Homo sapiens: one gene and its partner. The protein of the gene in region 1 purifies or fractionates together with the protein of each later gene. This does not show direct contact. Each region holds a gene or a part of one and is shown on either strand. Other genes may lie near its edges.

Region 1 (3,921 bases):
CACCGTGTTAGCCAGGATGGTCTCGATCTTCTGACCTTCTGATCTGCCCGCTTCAGCCTCCCAAAGTGCTGGGATTACAGGCATGAGCCACCGCCCCCGGCCAACCAATAAGTCTTAATTACCATAGTTTTTAAATTAAATCTTTATAGGGTAGGTCCAACTCAATCATCATTCCCACCTCCCACCCACCTATGTGCTTCAGGCGTCTCTTGGCTTGTACTAGTCCCTTCTATTTTCCACATACATTTCAGAATTATATTTTGATATGAAAATTTCTATTGGGATTTTATTGTTTTACTGAATATAAAGGTCTATTTGGGAGCATATTAACATCTTCATAATAATAATTCCTGTACAAGAATGTAATGTTATCCTTCATTTTTAAGGATTTTGTATATGGCAATAACATTGTATATCATTCAATAAGATTTACAATCTCTTATAAGAATTATTTCTAGTTTATATTTTTCTTGGAACTGCATGTGGCATCCTTTAAAATTTTAAATTCCAATTAGTTTTTTTTTAGAGAAACACAATCAGATTTGTATGTTGATTTATATTCACCAAAGCTGCTTTGAATCCTAACAATTTATCAATAGATTTAAGGGGAGAGAGTTTGCATGGATATTCAAATTATCTCCAATATGATAATTTCGCCTCTTTCTTTCAGATCCGTTTTCTTGTCCCAGTGAACAGGTGCACTATGTTGAAATAAGAGTGGTGACGGAGGCCTTGTTTATCTTGTATCTTATTGTAAAAGGTATTCTTTCATCACTTTCCCGTCCATTATGAGATTTTTGTTTGCTCTTGCTTTTTTGGAACCCTTTACTGGGTGAAGGAAATTCTTTTATTTCCTAACTTACAAAGATACATCTAAAACCATGAATAGATATAGACTCTTTTATATTTCCCCTTTTGCACCTATGAAGATGCCCCTATTCTTCTGTAATCTGTTCAATATGAGGAGCTCTATCAGTCATACCCAGAGCATACTCCCTCCTGACTAAAGCAGATACCTGCGCATAGGACTGAGCTATCAGTCTTCACTAGAGGTCTCCAGGTGATTCCAATAGGCAGCCAAGACGGGCCCCCCGGGTGGAGGATCTAGGACGTGCCTCCGCAAATTCTATCACCTGTTAAACATGCCTTTGGTTGCATTTGTTCCACAAATATTTATGGCCTCCCTCAGATTTGAAAGGATCCTTGCCAGGTGGTTATGTAGACTAGACAGCGTATTCCCCTCATGGAGCTTACTGTATAGATGGTTATCCGAAATTGAGATTATTGGTGGAAAACTTCTTTCCCCCGGCACTGCCTAAGTCAATTGTTTTGGAGGTTCTTGGTCAGATGCCCCATGAGCTCCAACATCATAAACGGGGTGTGGACCGTCTCCTAATCAGCAGACCCTGTTTAGTCCTGGGTGAAGAAAGACAATTGGGGCATCTGGGCAGAAACACGCAGGTGCAGCAGTATTTCCCCTCCATCGCGAAGGTCATCAAGAACCCACCTTGGCCAATCAAGAGAGGAGTCAGCTGGCTAATCACCGGGCAGGCACCGCCTTTTTCTTCCCGCTGCCTAGCTTGTTTGCTTTCGACCAGCCAAGGAGACCTGGTGGCAGGGTTGGTGAGTTACCTTTCTGGCCGATTTGTTTGTTTGGATTTTAAGGTCTTTTTTTATTATGTTACATTGGTTCTTTAGCTTTCTCTTTGGTTAGGAGCTGGAAATAATATGATTGGGGAATAAAATGACTAAAGTTCCTAAGGGCAGGCCAAGCTCTGTTACCTTTTTCAAGTTCACATGAGTAAATTTGGGTCATGCTTTTTTTTTTTTTGATAAACTTATTTAAGTTGACAGATAAAATTGCATGTAGTGTGTGCAGCATGATGTTTTGAAGTGTATGTGCACTGTGGGTGGAGTGTTTAAACCTAACTAACTCGTCATCATAGCCTTATGGATGCTATTCTTCTATGTGATGTATAAAGTGTTAGAGATGAAAAGAATATTTTTATTTATTTATTTATTTTGAGACGGAGTCTCGCTCTGTCGCCAAGGCTGGCGTGCAGTGGTGTGATCTCAGCGCACTGCAACCTCTGTCTCCTGGGTTCAAGTGACTCTCCCACCTCAGACTCCCAAGTAGCAGGAATGACAGGCACACGCCAGCATACGTAGCTAATTTTTGTATTTTTAGTAGAGATGGGGTTTCGCCATGTTGTCTAGGCTGGTCTCGAACTCCTGACCTCAAGTAATGTGCCCACCTTGACCTCCCAAAGTGCTGGGATTACAGGCGTGAGCTCCTGCACCCGGTCCTGAGCTCTATTTTAATGTTAATGCCCGTCAGTTGTGCCTAGGCTCCGAAAGGAAGGAGATAGGAGGAGGTTTGACCTCCCTTCCTGCCATAGTCAATGATTCTGTTTTTCAAGTATCTTGGCCAGGAGGGGGTCCGCTCAGTTGGTTGTGGGCGGGGGGGTGGGGGGGATGGGGGGGGTGGGGCGGTGGGTCTTAACATGTTATTTTTAGTTTACAAATTGATTCTTAACTTTGAGTGCTGAATTTACAGGGGGGATTGGAACAATATACTGGTTCCTGGGCCCAACCTCCAAAGTCTCTAATCAGTGTCTGTATTTCGGGACACTGGGGTTTTTGATAACTCCCCAGGTGATTCCCCTGTGTCTCAGTGCTTGAGAAAGTCTGGTCACAGGTGCTTGAAGTGCCCAACTGTGCGGTGATCAGCTAATCTGATGCAACGCCGACTTGGGACGTGCAATGCTGTAGTGTCAGCTTTTTTGCAGGTGTTGGAGATCACCTCATAGTTCAGTTGGCACCTTATAGTTCAGTCAACAGCAAATTCCAGCAACCAACTTAAAAAGCATTGCAGTGTGGTCAGATGAGTGTACAAAAGGTTGGTGTAAAAAAAGTATTTTGCCCTTTGGGAAAAGTAATAAGAGCTTTTAACACACACTCAACGTTGCATTTTTTTTTTTTTTTTTAGGAAGCTAAGAAGCCATCACTAGGCAAAAAGCTTATGGAATTTTCCTTGAATGATCCTATGTCACAGTATGAAATCAGAAACACCTAAAGACTGAGAGGGTCATGATTAAATATTTCTGGTGCATTATTACCAAACCACTTAAAAATCATACCTTAAAGAACACAAGCAAAGCTCATACAACAGTGTTTAGGGAAATATGGACTGTTTGAGTCTAAAGGTAACTACTTTATTAGACAAACATATCACTAGAAAGAAATACAGTTGACTCCTGAACTCGGAAGTCTCTCAGTTACAAGGATGGGGCTCAAAGGCAATGGTGAAATAGAAGTCAAAGGAGGGAAGAGTTTGGGAATTTGGGGAAGGGTTGGACTTGGTGAGGCTTAACTTACTAATCCCTAATCTACTTGTGTTCACTTAGGGGGGAAAAACACCTAGATACAAGATTTAAAAGAAGAAAACACTTGTGTTAAACAGATTTACAGTGGACCCTTGAACAATACAGGTTTGAGCTGCATGTGTCCACTTATACATGAAGTTTCAAAAATAAATATATTGGAGAATTTTGGGGGAGATGTATGACAACTTGTAGATGAACCAGGCAGCCTAGAAATACTTAAAAAATTAAAGTCAGATATGTCATGAATGCAATCAATATAGATGTGAGTCTACTTATGTGTTAATTGACTGTTGATAAGGCTTCTGGTCAATAGTAGGCTATGAGTGTTGGAAGTCAAAAGTTATACGTGGGTTTTTGACTGCCTAGGGGCTGGCAGCATTGACTTTTGAGTTCAGGAGTCAACTGTATTTCCCTCTAATATGTTTAAGAAAGTGGAGTTACCTTTAGACTCAAACAGTTCATACTTCTGTAAACGCTGTTTTATGAGCTTTTTCTTGTGTTCTTTAAAGTACGATTTTTTTTTTTTTTTTTTTTT
Region 2 (3,821 bases), on another chromosome or scaffold:
GGTACAAAGAGGAGCTGGTACCATTCCTTCTGAAATTATTCCAAACAAAAGAAAAAGACGGACTGCTCCCTAACTCATTTTATATGAGGCCAACATCATTCTGATACCAAAACCTGGCAGACACAACAAAAAAAGAAAATTTCAGGTCAATATCCCCAATGAACATCAATATGAAAATACTCAATAAAATACTGGCAAACCGAATCTAGCAGCACATCAAAAAGCTTATCCACACGATCAAGGCAGCTTCATCCCTGGGATGTAAGGCTGGTTCACCATATGCAAATCAATAAATGTAATCCATCATATAAACAGAACCAATGACAAAAACCACACAATTATCTCAATAGATGCAGAAAAGGCCTTGGACAAAATTCAACACCGCTTCATGCTAAAAACTCTCAATAAACTAGGTATTGATGGAACGTTACTCAGAATAATAAGAGCTATTTATGACAAACCCATAGCCAATATCATACTGAATGGGCAAAAGCTGGAAGCATTCCCATTGAAAACTGGCACAAAACAAGGATGCCCTCTCTCACCACTCCTATTCAACATAGTATTGGAAATTCTGGCCAGGGCAATCAGGCAAGAGAAAGAAATAAAGGGTATTCAAATAGAAAGAAAGTCAAATTGTCTTTGTTTGCAGATGACATGATTGTATATTTAGAAAATTCCATTGCCTCAGCCCCAAAACTCCTTAAGCTGATAAGCAACTTCAGCAAAGTCTCGGGATACAAAATCAATCAGCAAAAATCACAAGCATTCCTATACACCAATAATAGAGAGTCAAGTCACGAATGAACTCCCATTCACAACTGCTACAAAGAAAATAAAATACCTAGGAATCCAACTTACAAGGGATGTGAAGGACCTCTTCAAGGAGAACTACAAACCACTGCTCAAAGAAATAAGAGAGGACACAAACAAATGGAAAAACATTCCATGCTCATGGATAGGAAGAATCAGCATCATGAAAATGGCCATACTGCCCAAAGTAATTAATAGATTCAATGCTATTCCCATCAAGTTACCATTGACTTTCTTCACAGAACTAGAAACAACTACTTTAAATTTCATATGGAACCAAAAAAAGAGCCTGTATAGCCAAGACAATCCTAAGCAAAAAGAACAAAGCTGGAAGCATCATGCTACCTGACTTCAAACTATACTACAAGGCTACAGTAACCAAAATAGCATGGTACTGGTACCAAAACAGATACATAGACCAGTGGAACAGAACAGAGGCCTCAGAAATAACACCACACACCTACAACCATCTGATCTTGACAAAAACAAGAAATGGGGAAAGGATTCCCTATTTAATAAATGGTGCTGGGAAAACTGGCTAGCCATATGCAGAAAACTGAAACTGGACCCCTTCCTTACACTGTATACAAAAATTCACTCAAGACGAATTAAAGACTTACATGTAAAACCTAAAACCATAAAAACCCTAGAAGAAAACCTAGGCAATACCATTCAGGACATAGGCATGGGCAAAGACTTCATGACTAAAACACCAAAAGCAATGGCAACAAAAGCCAAACTTGACAAATGGGATCTAATTAAACTAAAGAGTTTCTGCACAGTGAAAGAAACCATCATCAGAGTGAACAGACAACCTATAGAATGGGAGAAAATTTTTGCAATCTATCCATCTGACAAAGGTCTAATATCTAAAATCTACAAGGAACTTAAACAAATTTACAAAAAAAAAAAAACCCATCAAAAAGTGGGTGAAGGATATGAACAGACACTTCTCAAAAGACATTTATGTGGCCAAAAAACATGAAAAAAAAGCTCATCATCACTGGTCATTAGAGAAATGCAAATCAAAACCACAATGAGATACCATTTCATGCCAGTTAGAACAGCGATTATTAAAAGTCAGGAAACAACAGATGCTGGAGAGGATGTGAAGAAATAGGAACGCTTTTACACTGTTGGTGGGAGTGTAAATTAGGTCAACCATTATGGAAGACAGTGTGGTGATTCCTCAAGGATCTACAAACAGAAATATCATTTGACCCAGCAATCCCATTACTGGGTATATACCCAAAGGATTATAAATCATTCTACTATAATGACACAGGCACATGTATGTTTATTGTGGCACTGTTCACAATAGCAAAGACTTGGAACCAACCCAAATGCCCATCAATGATAGACTGGATAAAGAAAATCTGGCACATATACACTGTGGAATATGAAGCAGCCATAAAAAAGAATGAGTTCATGTCCTTTGCAGGGACATGGATGAAGCTGGAAAGCATCATTCTCAGCAAACTAACATAGGAACAGAAAACCAAACATCGCATGTTCTCCATAAGTAGGAGTTGAACAATGAGAACACATGGACACGGGGAGGGGAACAGCACATACCGGGGCCTGCCAGGGGTTGAGGGGCAAGGGGATGGAGACCATTAGGACAAATACCTAATGCATGTGGGGCTTAAAACCTAGATGACAGGTTGATGGGTGCAGCAAAACCACCATGGCACATGTATACCTACGTAACAAACCTGCAGGTTCTGTACATGTATCCCAGAACTTAAAGTATTAAAAAAAAAGCAAAAACTAAAGCTGCTTACAAGAGCTTAGAGAACTCAAAACAAAACAAAACAAAAACAAAAAACCTCATACACAAGAAAAACTTTAAAACTTTTTAGAGACTGGTTAAGAGGTTGTGATAAAAATGCTGATTAAAATATAGACAGTAAAGGCCACGTTCATGAGATCTCAAATAAAATTTTTAAAAACTAAAACAAAAAAATGGCCACATTATATGTTATGCTTGTTAACAAAAAACTTGGCTACATTGTATCCATGCCTAGGACTTTGTAAAAGGCTGAACTTAAGAGTAATGACTTAAGCTACCTGGCAAAAAAAAGTTTCTAAACAACAAAGCGTTCAAAAGGTGACATGGCTGCTTCTAACAGCCTACTATCAGATATGGGAGTTCAAAAAAAAGACAAAGTTAAAGCTAATAATTAAGAGAAAAACAGAGCATACAAATTTGAAAAATTTACAACCTAACCATGTGGTAGAGGGAAGTTTTCAGGAGAGAAATCCAAACTACCTAGCCCCAGGTACCAGGCCCTGACAGAACAGGTTGTTAAAGCAATTAACATGAATAAAAGAGAGCCAGTTGTTAACAGTCAAGACAATGGGGAAAAGCCCCCAAGACATTCCAGAAATCAAGGCTACCCCTTCCATCACAGGCTCAGAGGCCTCCTCGGGCAAAATGGTTTGGGAGGCCAGGCCCAGGGTGTTGCTGCCTTGTGCGGTCTTGAGATGCTACTCCCCACGTTCTGGCTGCTCTGGCTGCAGCCAGGGCTCAAAAGGCCCCAGGTACTGTCTGGACTGCCACTCCAGTGGGTGCAAACCATAGGCCTTGATGGTTTCCAAGTGGTGTTAAGTCTGCAGGTATACAGAATACAAGATCCATGGAGGTTTGGCAGCTTCCACCTAGATTTCACAAGATATGTCAAGAAGTCTGGCTGTCCAGGCAGAAGCCTGCCACAGCAGAGCTCCTACAGAGAGATTCTACTAGGCTGGTGCCAAGGGGAAATATGGGGTTACAGTCCCCACAGAGAACTCACTGTAGAGCAGCGGGAACAGGGGCACTGCCCTCCAGGACCCACAGTGGTGGCAGTCTAACTAAAGCCAAGAGAAGAAGAGAAAGGTGTGGTCAAATGTGTTAAATACTGTTAAGAAAAAGAAAAAGAAAGAAACAAAGAAAGAAAGAAAAAGAAAGAAAGGAAAAGAAAAGAGAAAAGAAAAAAAGAAAAGGAAAAGAAAAGTCAGGGAGTGGA

The links.
Region 2: the proteins of NLRP11 (region 1) and CRY1 purify together in Homo sapiens (co-immunoprecipitation; one large-scale study listed by IntAct). This does not show direct contact.

The regions. Positions count from the first base shown.
Region 1 is NC_000019.10:55,829,665-55,833,585, reverse strand, and holds the start of NLRP11 (NACHT, LRR and PYD domains-containing protein 11), read left to right. Parts: upstream 1-1,586; 5' UTR 1,587-1,623; intron 1,624-3,921. UniProt on the Homo sapiens protein: Involved in inflammation.
Region 2 is NC_000012.12:107,083,260-107,087,080, forward strand, and holds part of CRY1 (cryptochrome-1), read right to left. Parts: intron 1-3,821.